2 linked regions of the Homo sapiens genome follow. The protein of the gene in region 1 interacts with the protein of each later gene in a pairwise test. Each region holds a gene or a part of one and is shown on either strand. Other genes may lie near its edges.

The links.
Region 2: the proteins of ATP7A (region 1) and GLRX interact in a two-hybrid assay, tested with the Homo sapiens proteins (one study listed by BioGRID).

Annotation. Positions count from the first base shown.
Region 1 is NC_000023.11:78,038,793-78,050,265, forward strand, and holds part of ATP7A (copper-transporting ATPase 1), read left to right. Parts: intron 1-43; coding exon 44-190; intron 191-1,798; coding exon 1,799-1,941; intron 1,942-3,792; coding exon 3,793-3,996; intron 3,997-4,524; coding exon 4,525-4,642; intron 4,643-6,677; coding exon 6,678-6,780; intron 6,781-7,501; coding exon 7,502-7,778; 3' UTR 7,779-11,473. UniProt on the Homo sapiens protein: ATP-driven copper (Cu(+)) ion pump that plays an important role in intracellular copper ion homeostasis.
Region 2 is NC_000005.10:95,819,539-95,830,813, reverse strand, and holds the start of GLRX (glutaredoxin-1), read left to right. Parts: upstream 1-8,087; 5' UTR 8,088-8,151; coding exon 8,152-8,358; intron 8,359-11,275. UniProt on the Homo sapiens protein: Has a glutathione-disulfide oxidoreductase activity in the presence of NADPH and glutathione reductase. Reduces low molecular weight disulfides and proteins.

The sequences.
Region 1 (11,473 bases):
ATTAATTGAACTTACTAAATGTTATTTCTGTGCCTACTTTCAGATGCTCTTAATGCTCAGCAGTATAAAGTCCTCATTGGTAACCGGGAGTGGATGATTAGAAATGGTCTTGTCATTAATAACGATGTAAATGATTTCATGACTGAACATGAGAGAAAAGGTCGGACTGCTGTATTAGTAGCAGTTGATGGTAAGGTTTTCCATAAGTATGCTATAACTCAATGTTTTGTTATTGTTTTATTAATTTATTTATTTTTGAGAGACCTCTGAACTATGAGGGTTATTCAAAAGCATCTTGAATGCAAAATGAAAATGTCAACAACACATGATTATTACTGATTAATTTAAAATTCTCTCGCATTTGCCTGCCTTTGTTACTTTCTTCCCTAGCCTATGTTTTAAATGAAGGCTAATCAAGGATTTTTTAAAACCTAAAAATAGCAACAGTAAAATAATAGCAAAGTAAAATAATATTCGTAATCCCATCATCCTAACACAATGTCAGGTTTTTTTTGTTTGTTTCTTTGTTTTGTTTTTGTTCTTGTTTTTGTTTTTTTTGAGACGGAGTTTCTCTCTTGTTGCCCAAACTGGAGTGCAATGATGTGATTCGGCTCACTGCAACCTCCGCCTCCTGGGTTCAAGCGATTCTCCTGCCTCAGCCTCCCAAGTAGCTGGGATTACAGGCGCGCACCACCATGCCCGGCTAATTGTTTGTATTTTTAGTGGAAATGGGGTTTCACCATCTTGGCCAGGCTGGTCTTGAACTCCTGACCTCAGGTGATCCACCCACTTCGGCCTCCCAAAGTGCTGGGATTACAGGCGTGAGCCACCATGCCCAGCCCACAACGTCAGTTTTAATTTTGTATATTCCATTCCTAGTTTTCTTGAAATGTGTGTGTGTTTGCAGAATTACAGTATTAGTACATATACCATTTTTTACTGGGTACATTTTATCGTAAGTAAATTTTACCTCAATAAAGTTAAAATCACTTGTACACATACTATTTTATTATGCTTTATTTTACTTAATGCTTTCTAATGTTGCTATATAATTTTACTATAATACTGCATAATTTATCAATCTTACACACTATAATCATTCCCCTCTTGTTGGAAATTTAGGCTATTCCTAATATTTCACTATTGTAAATGACACTACAATAAATATCTTTGAGGTTGTATGTGCTTTATTTTGTTATTTCTTAGGGTAAATTTCTAGTTGTGAGATTAATTCCACTCTACATTTATAATGTCTGCTAAGTATGAAGGCAGTCTTTTACTATGGCCTTTTTAGGTCTGGGAAGAAGCAGAGAATACCATTTTACTTTTGTTTTGTAAATAGAATAAAATAATAAGATTTATGGTAATATTTTTCCCACTATAAAGTGCCCATTTTGTCTCTCTCTGCCCCCCCCCCCTTACCTTAAAAAGAAAAAAAGTATTAATCTTCAGTTTCATTTGCCTATAAATTAGATAAAGTGTTTGAGGCTGTTGGCAAATACCTTTCTGAGGAACAAAAAGGGTCTTCTAATATCCAGTAAGGTCTCTCTTTTTATTTTCCTGTGATTACTTTATTAGTAACCCCTACCTCACTCTGAAATTTTCATAACCAAATATGGAGGCTTGTTACAGAGTTTGTAGTATAAAGTCTGTGTGGGCTTAGAGATATTTTAAGTTAAGCCATGCCCTGAACAACTTTACTTGAGAAAATTCATTTCATTCTGAAATTTCAAGTCAAAATGTTATTCTCCTTTCACTATATTCCAAGTTCTTTTATTTTGTGCTGCCCCTATATTAGATGAGCTGTGTGGCTTGATAGCCATTGCAGACACAGTGAAGCCTGAAGCAGAACTGGCTATCCATATTCTGAAATCTATGGGCTTAGAAGTAGTTCTGATGACTGGAGACAACAGTAAAACAGCTAGATCTATTGCTTCTCAGGTAATTGATAGGGGTATGTGATAACTTCTAATTATTGATATACATTTTATATCTTGCCTTCAAATGCTAAGAAATTTACATTACCTACTATTTTCATTATCACTGAGTAGTCCTATCTGGTTCCTTCAAGAAAATTTACCATGCTTTGCTGGAAAGACTTTGGGCTTTGTGTGTTGCTGTTATACGTAAAAAGGTATTTGCTTAGTTCATGGGATGCTTGCGTGACACTGTACACCAATTTCTGTTGATGTGCCCTTTGAAATGTTGCTCATATTCTTTACCAGTGCTGCCAACCTAAGCTGGGCTCTCCTGATCTCATGCCTGAAACACAGCAATAGCTCCACACACATCCCTCTCTAGTCCATCCTAAATACCACCACCAATGGAACTATTTTCCTAATGCACCACTTTGACATACCATTTTTCTGCTCCTGACTCCCACATCTGCCTTATCTCTAAAATTTTTCAATCTTTTTAACTTTGGAATGCCTTCTCCCCTCTTCTAATAAATAATGCAAGTAATCTTTTAATACATTCTTTTGTTTCTTTTTTTTTTCTTGGGACGGAGTTTCGCTCTTGTTGCCCAGGCTGAAGTGCAGTGGCGCGATCTCGGCTCATCGCAACCTCCACCTCCTGGGTTCAAGCGATTCTCTTGCCTCAGCCTCCCGAGTAGCTAGGATTACATGCATACACCACCACGCCCGGCTAATTTTGTATTTTTAGTAGAGACAGGGTTTCTCCATGTTGGTCAAGCTGGTCGTGAACTTCGGACCTCAGGTGATCCGCCCGCCTCGGCCTCCCAAAGTGCTGGGATTACACGTGTGAGCCACCGCACCCGGCCTATTAACACCTTCTTATGTAAAAAATACAGAAGGATATAAAGTAAAAATGTCCTCTTTTCCCCATGCTCCCCATTCAGTCCTACTGCCCCTCACACTGCCACTTTTTCATATGCATATATGTGCATATACAGAGTACATATACAGTATAATTCTGGTCTTTTCAACATCAGATCATTTTGAACAGATTGTTCAGTAGTTTGCTTTTTTTACGTAACAGTATACTTTGGAGCTTCATCCATATCTGAACATAAAGTTATTTTGGCCGGGTTTGTTGGCTCACGCCTGTAATCCCAGCACTTTGGGAGGCTGAAGTGGGCAGATCACATGAGGTCGGGAGTTTGAGACCAGCCTGGCCAGCATGGTGAAACCTTGTCTCTACTAAAAATACAAAAATTAGCCGGGTGTGGTGGCGCATGCCTGTAATCCCAGCTACTCAGGAGGCTGAGGCAGGAGAATCGCTTGAACCAGGAGGCGGAGGTTGCAGTGAGCCGAGATGGTACCATTGCACTCCAGCCTGGGTGACAGAGCAAGACTCTGTCTCAAAAAAAAAAAAAAAAAAAAGTTACAAAGTTACTTTATTCTTTCTATACTGAATTCCATGGTATGGATGTATCATAATTTATTTAACCATTTCCCTAATGATGGACATTTGGGTGGTTTTGAAAATTTTCTTTTTGCAAACAAGGCAATAATAAACATCTTTGGACATGTATCTTTCTGTACATGTGCAAGCCTGTCCAAGATAGAGCTAGACATGGAATTGCTAGACCAAATGATGCTCACATTTTGATAGATGCTGCCAGATGCCCTCCAAAAAGAGTTACAATTTACACACCAGCCACTGGTGTATAAGAGAGCTCATTTCTCCACATCCTTGCTATCACTAGATATTATCAGTCTTTTAAAATGTGGACATCTTGTGGGTGAAAACTGATGGCTTGTTATTGCTCAGTTATGTTTCACGTACTCATTATTTTTTAAATGAATTGAGTTTATTTTCATCACATAGGTTGGCATTACTAAGGTGTTTGCTGAAGTTCTACCTTCTCACAAGGTTGCTAAAGTGAAGCAACTTCAAGAGGAGGGGAAACGGGTAGCAATGGTGGGAGATGGAATCAATGACTCCCCAGCTCTGGCAATGGCTAATGTGGGAATTGCTATTGGCACAGGCACAGATGTAGCCATTGAAGCAGCTGATGTGGTTTTGATAAGGGTAAGTGCCATGGCTTGACCTTTGAGGAGTATGAGACTGCCCTATGTGGTCAATGATAATGTCATAAAGTATATTGAGCATAACAATTCTGTCTTAAGTTCCATGCTATCAGCCATTAAGAGTTTAAGAATATGGAGTGGGATTATGGGAAGTCATGCTAATTTACCCCCTGACTTTCTCAACCCAGCTCATAAGCAAGTGAGAATTATAAGTTTCTGAAGTGAAGAAGAAGATTTAAGAATGGATTCGGAATAAAATGATCTTCAACAAATAGTTGCTGAGATTATTTTAAGTAGATTTAATCATAGTACCAGCATACACCCCTAAAAGTGTTTTCAGAACCCTGAGGAAAATTTTTGAAAAACACCTTCGGAAGCTGAGTCTAAGTTTTAGCATTATCTGAGATTTGTAATTAATTCACATATTACCCTAAGGTAGACGTAATCTTCAACATACACAGTATCAAATGTAAAAGTTACTGGTTAAGTTAGAGTCTCTTACTAATATCACAAATATTTCTGTTCTTAGAATGATCTTCTGGATGTAGTGGCAAGTATTGACTTATCAAGAAAGACAGTCAAGAGGATTCGGATAAATTTTGTCTTTGCTCTAATTTATAATCTGGTTGGAATTCCCATAGCTGCTGGTATGTGACTCTTAACTAGTACTGCTTTTTCCACTAAAGTTATTAGAGACCTAACATATTGGAAGCCTGTCTTCTTACTATTAGTTTTGAGCTTAGTTTTTGTTTGTAGCCTACTGGTATGGTGAGAGGTAATGTTAAAATCAATCATTTTAATTTTCAGTAATGTTTGTTATAGCTTAAGAATATATAAGCATTCTGACAGATTTATTTTTTTCCCTCCAACTTTTTTTTTTTTTTTTTTGAGACAGAGTCTCACTCTGTTGCCCAGGCTGGAGTGCAGTCATACAATCTCGGCTCACTGCAGCCTCCATCTCCTGGGTTCAAGCAGTTCTCCTGCCTCAGCCTCCTGAGTAACTGGGACTATAGGTGCCCGCCACAACGCCCAACTAATTTTTGTATTTTTAGTATAGACGGGGTTTCTCCATGTTGGCCAGGCTGGTCTCGAACTCCTGACTTCAGGTAATCCACCCACCTCGGCCTCCCAAAGTGTTGGGATTACAGCTGTGAGCCACCACTCCCAGCCTTCAACTTTGTATTTTGAAAAATTTCAAACTTGACACCTGTAATCCCAGCACTTTGGGAGGCTGAGGTGGGCGGATCACCTGAGGTTGGGAGTTCAAGACCAGCCTGACCAACATGGAGAAACCCCGTCTCTACTAAAAATACAAAATTAGCCGGGCGTGGTGGCACATGCATGTAATCCCAGCTACTCGGGAGACGGAGGCAGTAGACTCGCTTGAACCCAAGAGGTGGAGGTTGTGGTGAGCCAAGATCGCGCCATCGCACTTCAGCCTGGGCAACAAGAGCGAAACTCCGTCTCCAAAAAAAAAAAAAAAAAAAATTCATACCTCCAAAAACATTGAAAAAAATGGTACAATAAAAATCTGTATGCCTTTCACCTAAACTCACCAACTGATGGTATTTTGCCACATTGCTTCATCTCTTTCTGCATATATTTGCACAGAGATATGTATTTGTTTGCTTATTAATTTTTTTCTAAATAGATTTACCTTTAATCTGACTACCCAAACCCAACACTGTTTGCAAGATTAATTCATGGAGCAAATGATTTTTAAAGAATTATACAAGTATTTTCCTCTAGTCTTTTTTTTACTCTACATCAGTTTTTGTCTTGTTACATAGTTGTGATTGTAGCTTATGGAGAATTTTCTGCTCTTCACTTAATATTCTATTATAGTCAGCTGGTATTTTTTTTAGGTTGAGAGACCAGATGACAGAGAGAGTGAACAAAGCAATATAACTGAGAAAAAAGAATTTAGAGTTATTTAATAAGCATCTGAGAATCTCCTAAACTTAGGGACCTGGTAGGAGTTAGTAATGATGACATAAAAGAAATAAGTATTGTTTTCTTCTTGTTCTCTCTGGTTTGAGGGCCAAGGAAAGACAAGAAATGACATGAGAACAATTACAAAACTGTTTATCAGCAAGGACACACAAATACTGAGAGAACAAAGAACAAAAGAACAATCTAAGTCCAGTAAGATTAATTCATGGAGCAAGTGATTTTTAAATAATTATACAAGTAATATATGATCACCATAGAAAAAGTAGAAAAATATAAAGAAGCACATAAAAAGTTAAAAGTATGAGTCTATTTCATCCTCATCATGTGAGCAAACATTCTTATGTCTGTGAAAACCAAGTGTGGATGAGTTTGTAGAACATGAACTCCCATACGCTATTGGTTGGATTTTGAATCACTACAGCCACTTTGGAGAACAGCTGAGGAATATCCACGTAAAGTTGAAGATGTGCCCATGTTATGACCCAGTAGTTTCACCCCTAGGTATATACCCCACAGAAACTCTCAAACATGGACACGGGGAGACATGTACAAGAATGTTAACAGCAACACTCTGTTAGTGAAAAAAATGGCAACAACAAAAATCTCTACCACCAAGAGGATAAATGCTGAAGAAGTATCAAACAAAGAAATGATTTGTATGTATGTTAGAAACACATTAATAATCTGTTTAGTATTATCTACTCTAACTAATCCATACTTGTTTCTTAGGAGTTTTTATGCCCATTGGTTTGGTTTTGCAGCCCTGGATGGGATCTGCAGCAATGGCTGCTTCATCTGTTTCTGTAGTACTTTCTTCTCTCTTCCTTAAACTGTAAGTATGATAGCTTGCTCACATTTGTATTTTGTATTCCTGTTATCATCTAGTCATTCTTGGTAGGTTTTATTCTTGTATTGATCAATGATAAGCCCAAACCATTCTTAATGAGAATTATTATTAGCGGCCGGGCGTGGTGGCTCACACCTGTAATCCCAGCACTTTGGGAGGCCGAGGTGGGCAGATCACCTGAGGTCAGTAATTTGAGACCAGTCTGGCCAATATGGTGAAACCCTATGTCTACTAGAAATACAAAAATTAGCTGGGCATGGTGGTAGACACCTGTAATCTCAGCTACTCGGGAGGCTGAGGCAGGAGAATCACTTGAACCTGGGAGGTGGAGGTTGCAGTGAGCTGAGATCGTGCCACTGCACTCCAGCCTAGGCAACAGAGTGAGATTCCATCTCAAAAAAAGAAAAGAATTATTATTAGCTAACAGTAATAATTAGCTATGTAATTGTTACTTCGTGTACTTTATGCATAGCAACCACAAGCACTGAGTGGGATAAAATATAGTGCACTAATTCTGAGAAGTAGGGTTTCTGATGATATAACTCCACACAATTCGTTTCAAGCTATTTTCCTACCAGTGATCACCTTTATACATTTCATACCAAAACTAAGTGTGGATGAGCAAATCTTCTTTCTTTTCTGCATGTAGCGAGCATCTCATTTACTTTTGGTTATTTGAAACTAGCATACTTTTGCATATGTCCAGTTACAGGAAACCAACTTACGAGAGTTATGAACTGCCTGCCCGGAGCCAGATAGGACAGAAGAGTCCTTCAGAAATCAGCGTTCATGTTGGAATAGATGATACCTCAAGGAATTCTCCTAAACTGGGTTTGCTGGACCGGATTGTTAATTATAGCAGAGCCTCTATAAACTCACTACTGTCTGATAAACGCTCCCTAAACAGTGTTGTTACCAGTGAACCTGACAAGCACTCACTCCTGGTGGGAGACTTCAGGGAAGATGATGACACTGCATTATAAAAGGCCATGGAGAGTGCTGCCAGTTTAACTTGTCATGCACTGACACAGCATTCATGATGTTACCTTCACTTTTCAAAATATTGTAGAAGGATTTTTCTCATGCTCTTATATTAGGGATTCTATTTGAGTTGCGTTTATCTGTTGGCAAAAATATCTTTTTCAAGGCATCAGCTCTGAACCTAGCTTTATTTAAACTGAATTTCCAGTATATTTTTGTTTTCACTAACAACAGATAAGGTAGAGCAGTGAGGTTTACAACAAGCCCTACAATTAGAGATTGCTGAACTGCTGCTAAAGTGATTTTTTTTTTATTTGACCAAAAAAAAAAAGGCCCAAGAAGAAGAAAATGAAAAATTTGAAGATTTGAGAGCATGAAGATATTCATGCTTTTGAACTCAAAATATTGAAGATACTCTCAAGCCTGTATCCCTGCCCCACTGGGGAGCAATGACTTTCAAAGCACTGTGTATAAAACATCTAGTTTTAGAAGGGAAACAGTTGAAACTGTTTAAAAATAGATGTGCCTTATTTATTGCAGGCTTTCTTTCCCCCATTCTCCCTGCATCCTTGTCCTTGCAGGTGCTTTTTTAGATGCTCCAATATGTCTTCTTTTGTTATTTTCTTTCGAGCTAACCAAGTTTAGGTGGTTTTTCATTGATTAAAAATAACTGACAACTGTTCTAATATTTTGCTCCTTTTTAAATTTTGTAGCTCAAAAGACCTTAAAGGTCTGTAGGGTTCCCTGCCTCCCATCTTTCCACTGTTGTAAAAAGTATATCAAATTATTCCTTCAAGTTTCCTAGCTCTGTGCTCAGTTTCAGTTCACTCCTGCCAAGTTGGACTCTAAGTTATTCTTCATGTAGTCTGCTGATCTCAGTCTGGAAACTTAACATTATGAGCCTTTTCTGCTCAAAAAATTTTCAAAGATTAAAACTATTATACATATACAGGTCATATAAAATTACCTGGATTCACTAAATTTGTTTGTTGTTGTTGTTGTTGTTGTTGTTGTTGTTGAGACAGAGTCTTGTTTTGCAGCCCAGGCTGGAGTGCAGTGGCACCATCTTGGCTCACTGCAACCTCTGCCTACCGGATTCAAGGAATTCTCCCTGCCTCAGCCTCCTGAGTAGCTAGGATTACAGGTGCCTGCCACCACACCCGGCTAATTTTCATATTTTTCAGTAGAGACGGGGTTTCGCCATGTTGGCTAGCCTGGTCTTAAACTCCTAACCTCAGGTGATCCACCCGCCTTGGCCTCCCAAAGTGCTGGGATTACAGGTGTGAGCCTCCATGCCCAGCCTAAATTTGTATTTTTTGAATTGAGTATAATCACTTTGCTAGTATATATAATTTAATAGATTTTATTTATCTTTTAGTGTTTCAGATAACCTCTCAAAAAGACTTTAAAATAATGCTATTACACAAAGCTGCATTTACCAAAAAATACAGTAAAATCATAATACAGAAACTAAAATTTCCCTAGGTTATGACGCTTTTTAGCTAAATATATACTCTTCTCTAGTTTAAAACATTTGAACTTGCCTAGTTAGTGTGGTTGGCAAATTTAGGAGCTTGTTCCCATTGCCAAATGGATTTAGAAATTCCCTTGTGAGTGCCTGGTAGCTAATACACTGGTCAGAGATCTGGTACTTGTAAGACTATTTAAATTTCTTTGTTAGTTGCAAGATGGATTTCATATGCAGAATATGTAAATGAAGAGGACTCATAAGTAAATTCCTAACATTTTGTTCCCATTACCAGAAGCAAAGCTGCTGCTAACCCAACATCTGGCACATAGGATTTGTACTCGGTAAATGTTAGTTCTTTTCTCCCCTTGAGGTCAGTAATAAATACAAAAAAATCATTTTTCTAGAGCAGAGTCTTAAAATCAGGTGGGGGTAGGGGATGGAGTTCTTCCTTTCCTACCCCTTTTCTCTTTTATCCTTTCATATATACACATGCAAAGTTTACAACCTTATTCCATGCTGTCTTTCAGATTTAGAAAAGATCTAATTTCTGTCTCAGCTGTCTTAAAGAGAGAACTGAAGCTTTTGATGAAGGTGCTATTAATCTAGAAAGGCAAACCCATTTCACTGAAATATCAATGGGTTTGCATATCTAGGCCCTTTTTTTAGACCAATGCCTATGCCATCCTCCATGCTTTCAGTTTGAGTTTTATTATTTATTATTTTAATTCCAGTGGCCCATCTTATAATACAACTTGTTTCTTCTAGAAGACAGAGCTGATAGGGTAAATGTTGAAAAAAGAAGCATGCCTCCTTCTCCCTCCCACCCACCTCAAGCAGTTGAACACAGCCAGTTATTCTTCCATTATTATGTGTACCTTGGAGTCATCCTCTTGGTCTTGTATTCATATTGTGGGACAGTGGGAATAGCAGCTTGTAGTATTGAAATAATCAAAGAGATAATTTCAGCTCTTACAACAAGAACAGAAAACATGCTAATTAGAAAAAGTCCTGCTTTAAGTAATATGTAGCCACATTTGAATCCTCTACCACAAGTCTTTTTTGCAATCTTGAACTTTCATTAGCTTCAAAGAGAAGCTGTATTTACAGGAGAAAGAGGTGATTATGGAGGGAATCAAAAATACTGCTTTCAGTTAGTAGCTAGCTTTAAGTCAGGAGTTAGTAATGAGAAATTTTATAAATGTGTATTTCTGTGTATTCACATACATATATATATACACACATATATATGTACATACACATACATACATATTACCATACTGAAGGGAAATGGATTTATATTTGAATTTGATATTTGAATATTTGAAGTTCTCTATTTATATTTCATTTATCACTCTTCTGTATTCACTCAGCAACCATGCCCTTAGTCTGAAGATAACAAGGATACTTTAATATCCAGTGCCGGTTCAGACTCACCTATGTGGCACCTTAAACTTAAATATCCAAAGATGCCTTTTGAATTTCAAAGATTAAAACACAGCTAGAGTAGTAGTATTGTAGTCTCAAGATGTATGGTGTGTCATTTGTGAAAATAGAAACGTTATTTTTCCTAGTTTAGTATCAACATTTTAGAATGTCAAATTTGATGCCTTGTGAACAAGTAATTTTATATTGTGCTTTAATTTTTTAAAAAGTATTCTTTATTCATATGTATAGAATGCTTAAAATAGCACTGTAGACAAGATGTTTCCAAAACTTTAAGTGCGCATATCTTTTCTGTATACAGCTTAAAATCAAAAATGTATGTTAAGAGAATTTTTTCTATTACTTATGGATCATGCTTTAAAATGATTTTTCTTGATATTTATTTTACTCCATTTTGTTTTTTTCTCTGGGTGAGGCATCTGGTTACTGGTTATTTTAAAAAGAATAAAGACATTCCTGGAATCACTCCTTTTGGGTTTTTGTTTGTTTTGTTTCTTTTCTACATTTTTAAGTATTATTTTACAAAATAGAAAAAATATAGATTCATGCCAAATTATTACCTATTTTTACACTAACTTTCTGCAGTCCCTCCATCTGGTATGAGTAACCAGATAGAGCACAAAGCATGAGTTCTTGTTCTTCAGTTAAAAGAGCTTCTTTCACAGTGTTGATAACAAATGCCTTTTGTAGCCAAAACCAGGCGTCTCAACCTTACGTTTTTAGTTAAAGAAATGTTTAGCTAAACGTTGTTGAACATTGATTGTTTGGTACCGAAAACAGCAG
Region 2 (11,275 bases), on another chromosome or scaffold:
AAAATGCCATGGCATGGAGGCAAGCTCACGAGGGGGTTAGAATAGATGGTCTTCGGGACCCCTTTCAGGCTTGTGTTATCCTTCCTTTAAGACCTTGGAATTTGCTCTGTAGAGCAGCAGAGAGAGCATCTGCTTTGGACCCAACACCTGAGCTTGAATCCCACATCTGGCGCTTCCTTGCTGGGAAGCCCGGGACAAAGTCTCCTAACCTTCCTGGGTCTGTTTTCTTACCTGCAAATGGCAGGTACTGATACCTACTCTAATGGGATATTTATTTGTTAAATAAATATCATTTCGATAACCTCACTGAAAAACATTTAGGCCTGGAGTAGATAAAACCTTCTTCCCAACAGCACAAGCCCCACCTTTTATTTCAGTGTTTTCAGTTTTGTCTGTCTAAGCAAGATAAAGTTCCTATTGGTGGCTCACTGGTTCTAAGGAGTTTGTGCTAGGAGTTGGCAATGAACACTGTTGGTTGCCTACCCCACAACCATTTTTCTCTTCTTCCTTCCTAGGGAATTCCTGTTTGCTAAGGAATCTACTTCTCCCCATCAGAGCTCTCCCTTTAAACTAAAGAGTTTCTGCACAGCAAAAGAAACTACCATCAGAGTGAACAGGCAACCTACAAAATGGGAGAAAATTTTTGCAACCTACTCATCTGACAAAGGGCTAATATCCAGAATCTGCAATGAACTCAAACAAATTTACAAGAAAAAAACAACCCCATCAAAAAGTGGGCAAAGGACATGAACAGACACTTCTCAAAAGAAGACATTTATGCAGCCAACAGACACATGAAAAAATGCTCACCATCACTGGCCATCAGAGAAATGGAAATCAAAACCACAATGAGATACCATCTCACACCAGTTAGAATGGCAATCATTCAAAAGTCAGGAAACAACAGGTGCTGGAGAGGATGTGGAGAAATAGGAACACTTTTACACTGTTGGTGGGACTGTAAACTAGTTCAACCCTTGTGGAAATCAGTGTGGCGATTCCCCAGGGATCTAGAACTAGAAATACCATTTGACCCAGCCATCCCATTACTGGGTATATACCCAAAGGACTATAAATCATGCTGCTATAAAGACACATGCACACGTATGTTTATTGCAGCACTATTCACAATAGCAAAGACTTGGAACCAACCCAAATGTCCAACAAGGATAGACTGGATTAAGAAAATGTGGCACGTATACACCATGGAATACTATGCAGCCATAAAAAATGATGAGTTCATGTCCTTTGTAGGGACATGGATGAAATTGGAAATCATCATTCTCAGTAAACTATCGCAAGAACAAAAAACCAAACACCACATATTCTCACTCATAGGTGGGAATTGAACAGTGAGAACACATGGACACAGGAAGGGGAACATCACACTCTGGGGACTGTTGTGGGGTGGGGGGAGGGGGGAGGGATAGCTTTAGGAGATATACCTAATGCTAAATAACGAGTTAATGGGTGCAGCACACCAGCATGGCACATGTATACATATGTAACTAACCTGCACATTGTGCACACGTACCCTAAAACTTAAAGTATAATAAAAAAAAAAAAGAAGTCAAACCATTTCTAATCTAGCAATGGGCCTCATTTTCTCTAAAAGTGGTGGTCACTCCATTCCTTTTGCTAGTCTCTGGGTTAGGAATGAGCCTGTGATGCAATTTAACCAATAACACAAGGGGAGGTTTGGTGTGGGAAAACTTTAGATTAACGCTTTCCCATTGCCTCTGGAATGGTTGTTTGCAGACACGGGGCAACAAGAGAGACTTTCCAAATGTATGGCAGAGCCTGTAGGGAGGCAGCCTGTAGGGAGGCAGCCCGTACTCCTGACCTTGGCTGAACTTCAAGTCCCTCAAGTTAGGAAGATTTTCCTTATTCTTCTAGTCAGTTTGGGATCCAAAATATCAACTTTTCAAAGTTGCTGTGATGATTAGAGATCATGCATATAAAGCTCTTAGCACTGAGCCCAGCACACAGTAGGTACATAGTAAATGGTAGCTGTCAGTGTTACTGAGTTCAGTATCACACAGCCCTGCATAGAGGTAGAAGGCAAGGAAACATCTGTCCAGAGAGACTGCAGTTAGAGCCAGAGTCAGTGCCCCCCGCAGTCAAATCTGGAGAGGGCCAGAGAGAGCTTCCTAAAGAATTAGACTCTGAAAACAAGGCACGGCCCCAAACCAGAACCTTCATTGTCTGAGGTTGAAAAAGGCAGCTGGTACCAAGGCTCTCTCACCTGAGCCCCCACAGCAGCATGCCTAAGGGGCCACATGGGCAGCCATGCTTAGTGTAGCAGCCTTGAGGGCAGCTGGAGCAATGGCAGCCCACCACCCCCTGAGCCGCCCCTTCGTACCACTTCAAGCCTTGTGGAAGCCAGGACTGGTCCCAGGGTGAACACAGAGGGACCCTGAAAGTTTTGCCAGCTCCAAAGCATTCCTGTCACTCATTAGAGCCCTTCTGTGATCAAACTGCATTTAGGTACTCATTGTGTGACTTGGGAGATGTGACACCATCATTAATACATCAAACGTTTGACTACAAATCTATCCATATATAAAGTATGCCTGTTCCAGCTCCTTGGTGCCTGTGTGTGAACTCCTCCCTCTGCAGTGTGGTAAAGTTCCCCTATTCTCTGCCTGCTCTCCAGTTGTCTCTCCTCTCCCCACGCAAACCCCTAATGCTCTATCCATGTTCAATGTCGAGCACCGTTTATGTTGTTCTTCCTTTTCCTACTCCTTCTGCCTGCAATGCCCCTCCCTTCCTTGTACACTCAGAAGCTTCTTCTTATCCCTCAAGATTCAGCCTAGCTCTCCTTTGATGTGGGCCCTTTCCCCAGTCACCCTCCAGGTGGGAGTGACTACTCCCTTTGGTTAACCTAATGCCCATACACACTTCTGTTAACTAGAACACTTTCTAACACTTGTGTCCATTTTCCTTGTTTATATTGCCCACTAAACTATAAACTCCTAAGACCTGGGGCTGTATGATGGATGTTTGTGTTTGGCTGAGAGTAGTTGATTAATAAATGTTTGTTGGATGAATGGGTGGATGGATAAGAACCAGTGTGTATCTGTTGGGCTCTGGTAATGCAGAGATAAAAAGCCCTTTCCCTGCCCTCAAGGAACTCACTGTAGATGACAGAAAATTAATACAAAGGAACAATGACATGTGATGAGTCAGGGCGCAGTATGACATGTGAGCTCCATGGAGAGGCACCCATCCCATGGGGGAAAGAGGTGTGTGTTTTGGGGTACTTCCTAGAGGTGCTAACACACCATCCTGATCTGAGTCCCTTTGGGCCAGCAGGAGTCAGCCACACAGAAATAAGAGGAAGGGCACCCTGGGCACAGGGAGCAGCAGGTCCAAAGTGTGAGTGGCAGCAATGACGAAATGGCTCAGAGTCCACACAGTTGGAGCAAAGGAGAAATTGTTGCAGAACTTTCCCCTTAGTTCCGGTAAAACTGGGCTCTTGTCACACGACCAGGAAAGATTAGGCTTGCGGACACACAGAAGGGTGAGGAAAATGGAATTTATTGGATGAAAAGGAAAAAGGAAAAATAATTCTCAGCAAAGCAAGAGAGAGTCCTGATAGCAGGTTTCCCGGCTCACAGATTGAGTTCCAGGTCAGCACACAGGAACAGGAGAGGCCAGGCTCCTCCTCGCTGCAAACGGTGCAAACTTCCCAAAGTTCCATTCCGCCTTCCCAGTGCACAGGTGGGCATTATTCAGAAAGAATCAGTCAGGAAAAGGTGGGCCTCATCCAGGACCAGCAGTCCAATTTTTGTCTTTGTTTCTGGTATTTTTTGAGACAGAATTTTGCCCTTGTTGCCCAGGCTGGAGTGCAATGGCACGATCTTGGCTCACTGCAACCTTCGCCTCCTGGGTTCAAGTGATTCTCCTGCCTCAGCCTCCCAAGTAGCTGGGATTACAGGCGCCTGTCACCATGCCCAGCTAATTTTTTTTGTATTTTTAGTAGAGATAGGGTTTCACCATGTTGGCCAGGCTGGTCTTGAACTGCTGACCTCAGGTGATCCACCTGCCTTGGCCTCCCAAAGTACTAGGACAGCAGTCCAGTTTTTCAGCCTTCAGGTTGTTTTAGACTTGGAGGCAGGGTTTCACCAGGGACCCTTGGCTGCCTCCTGTCTCTAAAATGTTGGTGGGGAGGCTGGGATACGATGAACAAGGTAGGGAGGACCCATCACACAGGGCCACATCCCCACAGGGAAATCTGGATTTTGTCCTGGGGAAACATGGACTAGTTTTTTGTTTGTTTGTTTGTTTGTTTGTTTTTTGAGTTGGAGTCTTGCTCTGTCACCCAGGCTGGAGTGCAGTGGCACAATCTCCATTCACTGCAACCTCTGCCTCCCGGGTTCAAGAGAGTCTCCTGTTTCAGCCTCCCAAAGAGCTGGGACTACAGGCACACGCCACCACGCCCAGCTAATTTTTAAATTTTTAGTAGAGATGGGGTTTCACCATATTGGCCAGGCTGGTCTCAAACTCCTGACCTCATGATCTGCTCGCCTCAGCCTCCCAAAGTGCTGGGATTACAGGCATGAGCCACCACGCCCAGCCCATGGACTAGTTTTAAGAGGGAACAAGATAGGTTCTGTATTTTTAAAGATTGCCCCAGCAGCAGTGTGGAGTAGGCAGTGAGGCGAGGGTGGAGGTGCTACAAGAGGGAGTGAAGAACTAATGAGGGCTAGAGCAGCAGGAGCAGTCAGGTGTTCAGACCAGGGAGGCACTCAGGAGGCAAACTTGGTAGGGTTTGGCCACTATGCATAAGTGAAAGCAGAGGCCAGCACAGATGCCTGCCAGGTTTCCGCCCTGGCCGAAAAGGTACATGAAGGTGCATGCAGGCTCAATGAGCAGGTATGGAGGAAAGAGGGTGGCTTCAGGGGAGATTCAGTTTTGGCTGCCTAGAGGCTGAGAGGCCTAAGGAATCCCCAGGTGGGTCTTTTCAGTAGGCAATGAGATAGCCTTCCCTGAAGCTTAGGAGAGAGGTCCAGATAAGGAAAAACGTGATGCTCATCAGTAAAAAGCTGACAGCTGGAGTCATGTGTGGAGCTACGACCTCTCAAGGAGTGGGTGTGTACACAATGAGAAGATCAAGCCCCAAGATAGACCATATGTGTAGGCAAAATTCTTAACAAAGACACTGAGACAATATCCAATAGAAAGAGCAAAAAGATCATGCTGCAATGGGCAGTGGGAAGAGAACTTCCAGAGGCCTGCAGTGATCTACAAGGTCAAACCCTGCACAGTGGGTAAGGAAAAACCCTGAAGAATGTTCGTTTGTGGCCACATTTTTTGCAGCCCTCATCAGCCTGTGAGTACAAATGAAGTCACATTGGCCGGGCACGGTGGCTCACGCCTATAATCCCAGCACTTTGGGAGGCTGAGGTGGGCAGATCACGAGGTCAGGAGATCGAGACCATCCTGGCTAACACGGTGAAACCCCGTCTCTACTAAAAATACAAAAAATTAGCCGGGTATGGTGGCGGGTGCCTGTAGTCTCAGCTACTCAGGAGGCTGAGGCAGGAGAATGGTGTGAACCCGGGAGGCGGAGCTTGCAGTGAGCAGAGATCGTGCCACTGCACTCCAGCCTGGGCAACAGAGTGAGACTCCGTCTCAAAAAAAAAAAAAAAAAAAAAAAGAGTAACCACACATATTTCACTAGCTTGTTGCCAACCATCTGTAAAGCAGGACTGATTCTCCCCTAAAAAATGCCCTCACTTCCCACCCTCCAAGGTGTATTTTCTGAGAGTGCCTGGGAGTGTCTCACACAAGCCAAAGGAGAGTCCACACGTGTTAGTCCACACGCACACCCTCTTTCCATCCACAGCACTTGACGCATCTGCAGTCCCCATGGCGGCTTTCCATTGAGATGCCCTAAGGTCCATGCTGGGTTTCAGCTCCTGCTGTACAATGCAGCAGAGGCTTCTATGCTTGTCATTTTTCACTGAGTTGAAGCCACAGCATTTTCTGAGAAATGGAGAGGACACCCGTTCTTTGCCATCTCTTTGTCTCCCATTTTCCACATGGTGCCTCACAAAAAAATTGCCTTTAGCTTGTGCCTTATGGCCATCTGTCCTAAGGCTTCAGACACCAGGCAGTCCCCGGGACTGAGTGAGAGGCAGACAATAGTCTCCCTGGATCCCAGCCTCTTGGGGCAGGTGACTAATTTGCAAAAGGTCAGGATACCTAGCTAAATGGTCATTTGGTGACATAGAGGCCATGATTAGTGTCTGCCAACAATTCAGCAGAATGGTTGACAAGGTCAGATAACAACAAAATGAGAGAATGGAGGTGAGAAAGGTACAGACAGTAAATTTCATGAAAGGGCAGAGGCAGGAAAGCAGGAAATGGGGAGTGGTGGTGGTGGTGGTGGCTTTTAACTTGAACACAGTGGCAGGCTGAGGCACCAGGAAGGGAGGAGCCAACAACAGACCGGAGAAGAGAAAGGCTCTGAGTGAGTAGCAGGTGCAAGTCGTGTGGATAAACCTCAGGCTGAGGGAACTTAAGGCAACAGCCTGAGGGCCCTGAAACAGACCCTGGACCTCCTGGCAGGGGCCTCTGGAAGGAGCCTGGCCACAGGGTTCTGAGGTAAAAGAATGAAAAAAGAGAGGAGGCTCAGACTCTGTGGCAGAGCCTACTTTGGAGGGAAGTGGGAAGTGGGAAGTCCGGAGCCCTGACCACGTGAGGGGCCTCCCAGCCCTGCCACATCCTTTTCTCTGGACAGAGCTGTCACTTAGCTCCCCCTCCGTGACTCAGAATCTGGCTTTCTCATTTTGCCATTTTAATTCTAGTAACGATGAGAGTCACAGTAAAAAGCTGCTTCTGGGAGTGGATTTTCTTCCCTTCCCTTGATCGCAGTATGCTTGGGATTCCTCTTACGTGGCAGTCGTGGTGTCCAGCTCTGGCCTTGGCCCCGCCTCTTTGAAGATACTCTGGTTTCACCATAAAACTTCCTGGGGAAAGGATGATTCACGTTTAAAGGACATAGTTTTTCCTTGATTTGTTTATTTAAGCTACCATACACTAGAGGGGGCCGGAACTAGACCCAGGAGTAGAGGACTTTGCTTTGCGGGATAAGGAGAATGGGCACCCTGGGGAAGAGCGAAAGATTTCCTACTGTTACAACCCGTGTCTTATAACACTTGAAGTGAATGTGGTGTCTGAGTTACAACACTACTTCCCCTCACAAACAGTTAAAAGCAGAGGGTCACAAACATAGGCTCAACCAGAAAAAAAGATTCTCATTTCATCTGTAGTTTTGTATCAAGGATTGTGTTGGAATTTGCCTCCATATTAAACTGCTGTTCAAGGGTTACCAACTCAAATGGTTATGGGGTGAAGCCGGTGTCTCAGGCATGGGCCTGTCGTTGGGACCTGTGGCAAACCAAAGCCACTACTTGCCCTATACAAAGGGGGCAACAGCTGTCAGCCCCAGCAGCTTCCACTAAAAGGTGCAAGCTCTGTATTGCCCGACCTGACTTTTCAGAGAGAAGTTTTAAGTCCGAATTGTTTTGTGAGACCTCCAGATTTTTAAATACTGAGAATGAATTCCATTAAAAAGATCACAACAACAAACACCCACCATACAGTCCAAGCAAAATGCTGTGAGAGCAACCTTCATGAGGAGTGCAAAGTCACAGTTTCAATTTCACTTCTTCTAAAGAGATTTCCAAGTGTTCTGTTTCTTAAGTGATTCTGTTTGCATTTTAAAATACAACTGTATCTCCTAGAGGGAAAACAAGAATTTGCTCTAAGAAGTCACTGCCTCCTCAGCCCCTTTGTGAGTAAGCACTTTATGCTTCCCCAGAGGTGACTAAACTCTGATCATTGCCAATGGGCAGGCACTCCCCAAATGTCCAAGGACAACAAAGATACCCAGAGTGTCTTTCATAGCTACCAATGATTAAATAGCAAGTATTGCATTCCTGGGCATTGCTAACTAGTGAAGTATACCAGATGGAAATGTCTTCGAAGCTGTCCCTTTAAAACTCGAGCAAGCTACCAGGCAAACTCCGCCTCCAGGGAGGTTCCTTATTAAATAGGAGCCAACTGGCTGGGTCGGGGCTCAATACCCCAAGCAATACCTGCAACTGAGGATTCTTCCCGGGGAGACCGCAGCCCATCGGCATGGCTCAAGAGTTTGTGAACTGCAAAATCCAGCCTGGGAAGGTGGTTGTGTTCATCAAGCCCACCTGCCCGTACTGCAGGAGGGCCCAAGAGATCCTCAGTCAATTGCCCATCAAACAAGGGCTTCTGGAATTTGTCGATATCACAGCCACCAACCACACTAACGAGATTCAAGATTATTTGCAACAGCTCACGGGAGCAAGAACGGTGAGTTTCATTTTAAACGGCTAGGGAAAGGCTCCCGGATTGCCTTTTCTTGTCAGAGCTGTGCCTTTCTTTAGGATAAGGCTGCGGCTCCGTACTTCAAGGCGTCCAGAGGGCTGTGCGGGGCGGGGGGTGTGGGGGAGGGCGCCTTAGAGAGGATCTCGGTCACTTGAATGAGCGGCGGCACTGCAGCCAAAGGTCTTCACGGGGCAGAAGAGGGAGTACAGCTGATGTCTGCTGTGCGGCAGGGTAAGTGGGACCAGCAGCTTGCCGGTGAGTCCCTGGGGAATTATCTAGAGTCTTTGTTTTAAGCACTGCCAGGAAATGACAGTTTTCAGTTGGCAGGGCTGGAGGTGGAAGCTGGGGTGGAGGGCCGGGTGTGATGTGTTTGTTATTTAACATGAGATTCATGTTCTTCATTCTTTTCTCTAGGCTTTCTTTTTCTAATTTGCTCATTCTTCCTTATCTAATTCCTCCCACTGGAAAAATCTAATGTACCGTTATCTGCCCCTTGTTCTAAATTAATTATGGATGTTTCCAGGCCCCACATTGTAGGGAATCATAGCCTGGAGTTCTGGCCTGGCTCTTATAATGGCTGGCTGTGTGATCCTGGGCAAGTCACCACCCCAGTAGTCCTCAAAGATCCCAGCTGCAAGACCAGATTAGGTGACCTCAGAGTCCCATTTGCTACGAATAGACTGTGGGACCCTCTAAAAATTGCTCTCCTCCATCCGAAAGACTTCCCTCTCTTCAGCATCCTTGGCTTTGCGTCCTGGGCTTCAGGAGGGATGCCAGCCACATCACCTGTATCAGTTCTGCTGTGAGGTGGGATGAGAAATGTCCCACCAGCTCAGCTAAGTTCTCTTTTACGATGCACGAATTCTACAGCACAGTGTTAGGCCAAGCACATATCCTATTTCAGTTTTAGTTTGACTTACAAGGTTGTCTCTGGGTTCTGAGTATAAAGCATTGGAGGTTGTTTCTCTCCCCTTCTCTCTAATAAGAAGTCAGCATTTTGGTGCAGAAAGGGGGCTTAGTGTGTTATCCTACTGCTGTGTGCTGAGGTCCTGGAGTATACACAATGACGAGAGAAGCTCTTGCTGCCTAGTGGGACCACCAGCTGCATAGGATGCCCAGGCCCTGAGAGGTGTAAAGGGCAGTGCAAACACTACTACGGGCCCCACTGTGGCTGCCACCCTGAGGACCTTTTAGCCATTGGTTCCCAAACTTTGCTGCACATTAGGATCACCTAGAGAGCTTTTAAAACAATCCTTATGCCCAAATTATGCCCCTCAATAACTAAATCACAATGTCAGAGGTGGGAGCCAAGCATTAGTTTTGTTTGTTCGTTTGTTTTGAGACAGTTTCATTCTTGTCACCCAGGCTGGAGTGCAATGGTGCAATCTTGGCTCACTGCAACCTCTGCCTCCTGGGTTCTCCTCAACCTCCCAAGTAGCTGGGATTACAGGCGCCCACCACCATGCCCAGCTAATTTTTGTATTTTTAGTAGAGACGGGGTTTCACCATGTTGGCCAGGCTGGTGTCGAACTCCTGACCTCAGGCGATCCACCTACCTCGGCCTCCCAAAGTGCTGGGATTAAACGGGTGAGCCACCACACCTGGGATTTTTATTTGGAAAAATCCCTTGGGGATTCCAATGTGCAACACAATTGGGATTATTGTTCTCAGCCCAACAGCATCTATTTTCCAGGAGGTAAAGCAAACCTCTTCATGTGTTCATTTAACAATTGCTTTTTTTTTTTTTTTGAGATGGAATTTCGCTCTTGTCGCCCAGGCTGGAGTGCAGTGGTGTGATTTTGGCTTACTGCAACCTCCACCGCCCAGGTTCAAGCAATCAAGTAGCTGGAATTACGGGCACCTGCCACCACACCTAGCTAATTTTTGTATTTTTATTAGAGATGGGGTTTCACCATGCTGGCCAACCTGGTCTCGAACTCCTGACCTCAGGTGATCCACCCACCTCAGCCTCCCAAAGTGCAGGTGTGAGCTACCACACCTGGTCAACAATTGCTTTTTCATTTCTTTGTAGAACAACAATATTTCTTGTAGTAATCTTTTAAGGTTTTTTTTTTTTTTTTTTTTTTTAAGAGACAGAGTCTTGCTCTGTCACCCAGGCTAGAGTGCAGTGGTGCAATGATAGCTGACTGCAGCCTCGAACTCCTGGGCTTAAGTGACCCTCCCACCTCAGCCTCCCGTGGCTGGGACTACAGGCATGAGCCATCATACCCAGCTAATTTTTTAAGTTTTTGTACAGATGGGGGTCTTGTTATGTTACCCAGGCTGGTCTTGAACTCCTGGCCTCAAGCTATCCTCCCACCTCAGCTTCCCAGAGTGCTGGGATTACAGATGTGATCCACCTCAACAAGCCTGTTTTTCATTTTTAGAAAAATGTTTTTCACAGATTCTTGAATTCTGAGTGCATTCCTCCTAGGGGAAGAACAAGCCTTTTAAAGCTGCATGTTTGATCCCCAACAGGGAAGTGTTTGTATTCAAAGGGTCTGAAAGCTCCCGAGGGTTTTTTTTTTTTTTTTTTTTTTTTTGAGACGGAGTCTCCCTCTGTGCCCAGGCTGGAGTGCAATGGCGCAATCTCAGCTCACTGCAAGCTCCACCTCCCGGGTTCACGCTATTCTCCTGTCTCAGCCTCTCGAGTAGCTGGGACTACAGGCGTCTGCCACCATGCCTGGCTAATTTTTTGTATGTTTAGTAGAGACGGGTTTTCACTGTGTTAGCCAGGATGGTCTCAATCTCCTGACCTCGTGATCCACCCGCCTCAGCCTCCCAAAGTGCTGGGATTACAGGCGTGAGCCACGGCGCCCGGCCTGATCCTGCAGTCTTAATTATTCTATAAAGTAGCTGTATCTAGTAGGTAATCAGCAGGACATGATTATGGAAAGTTAGT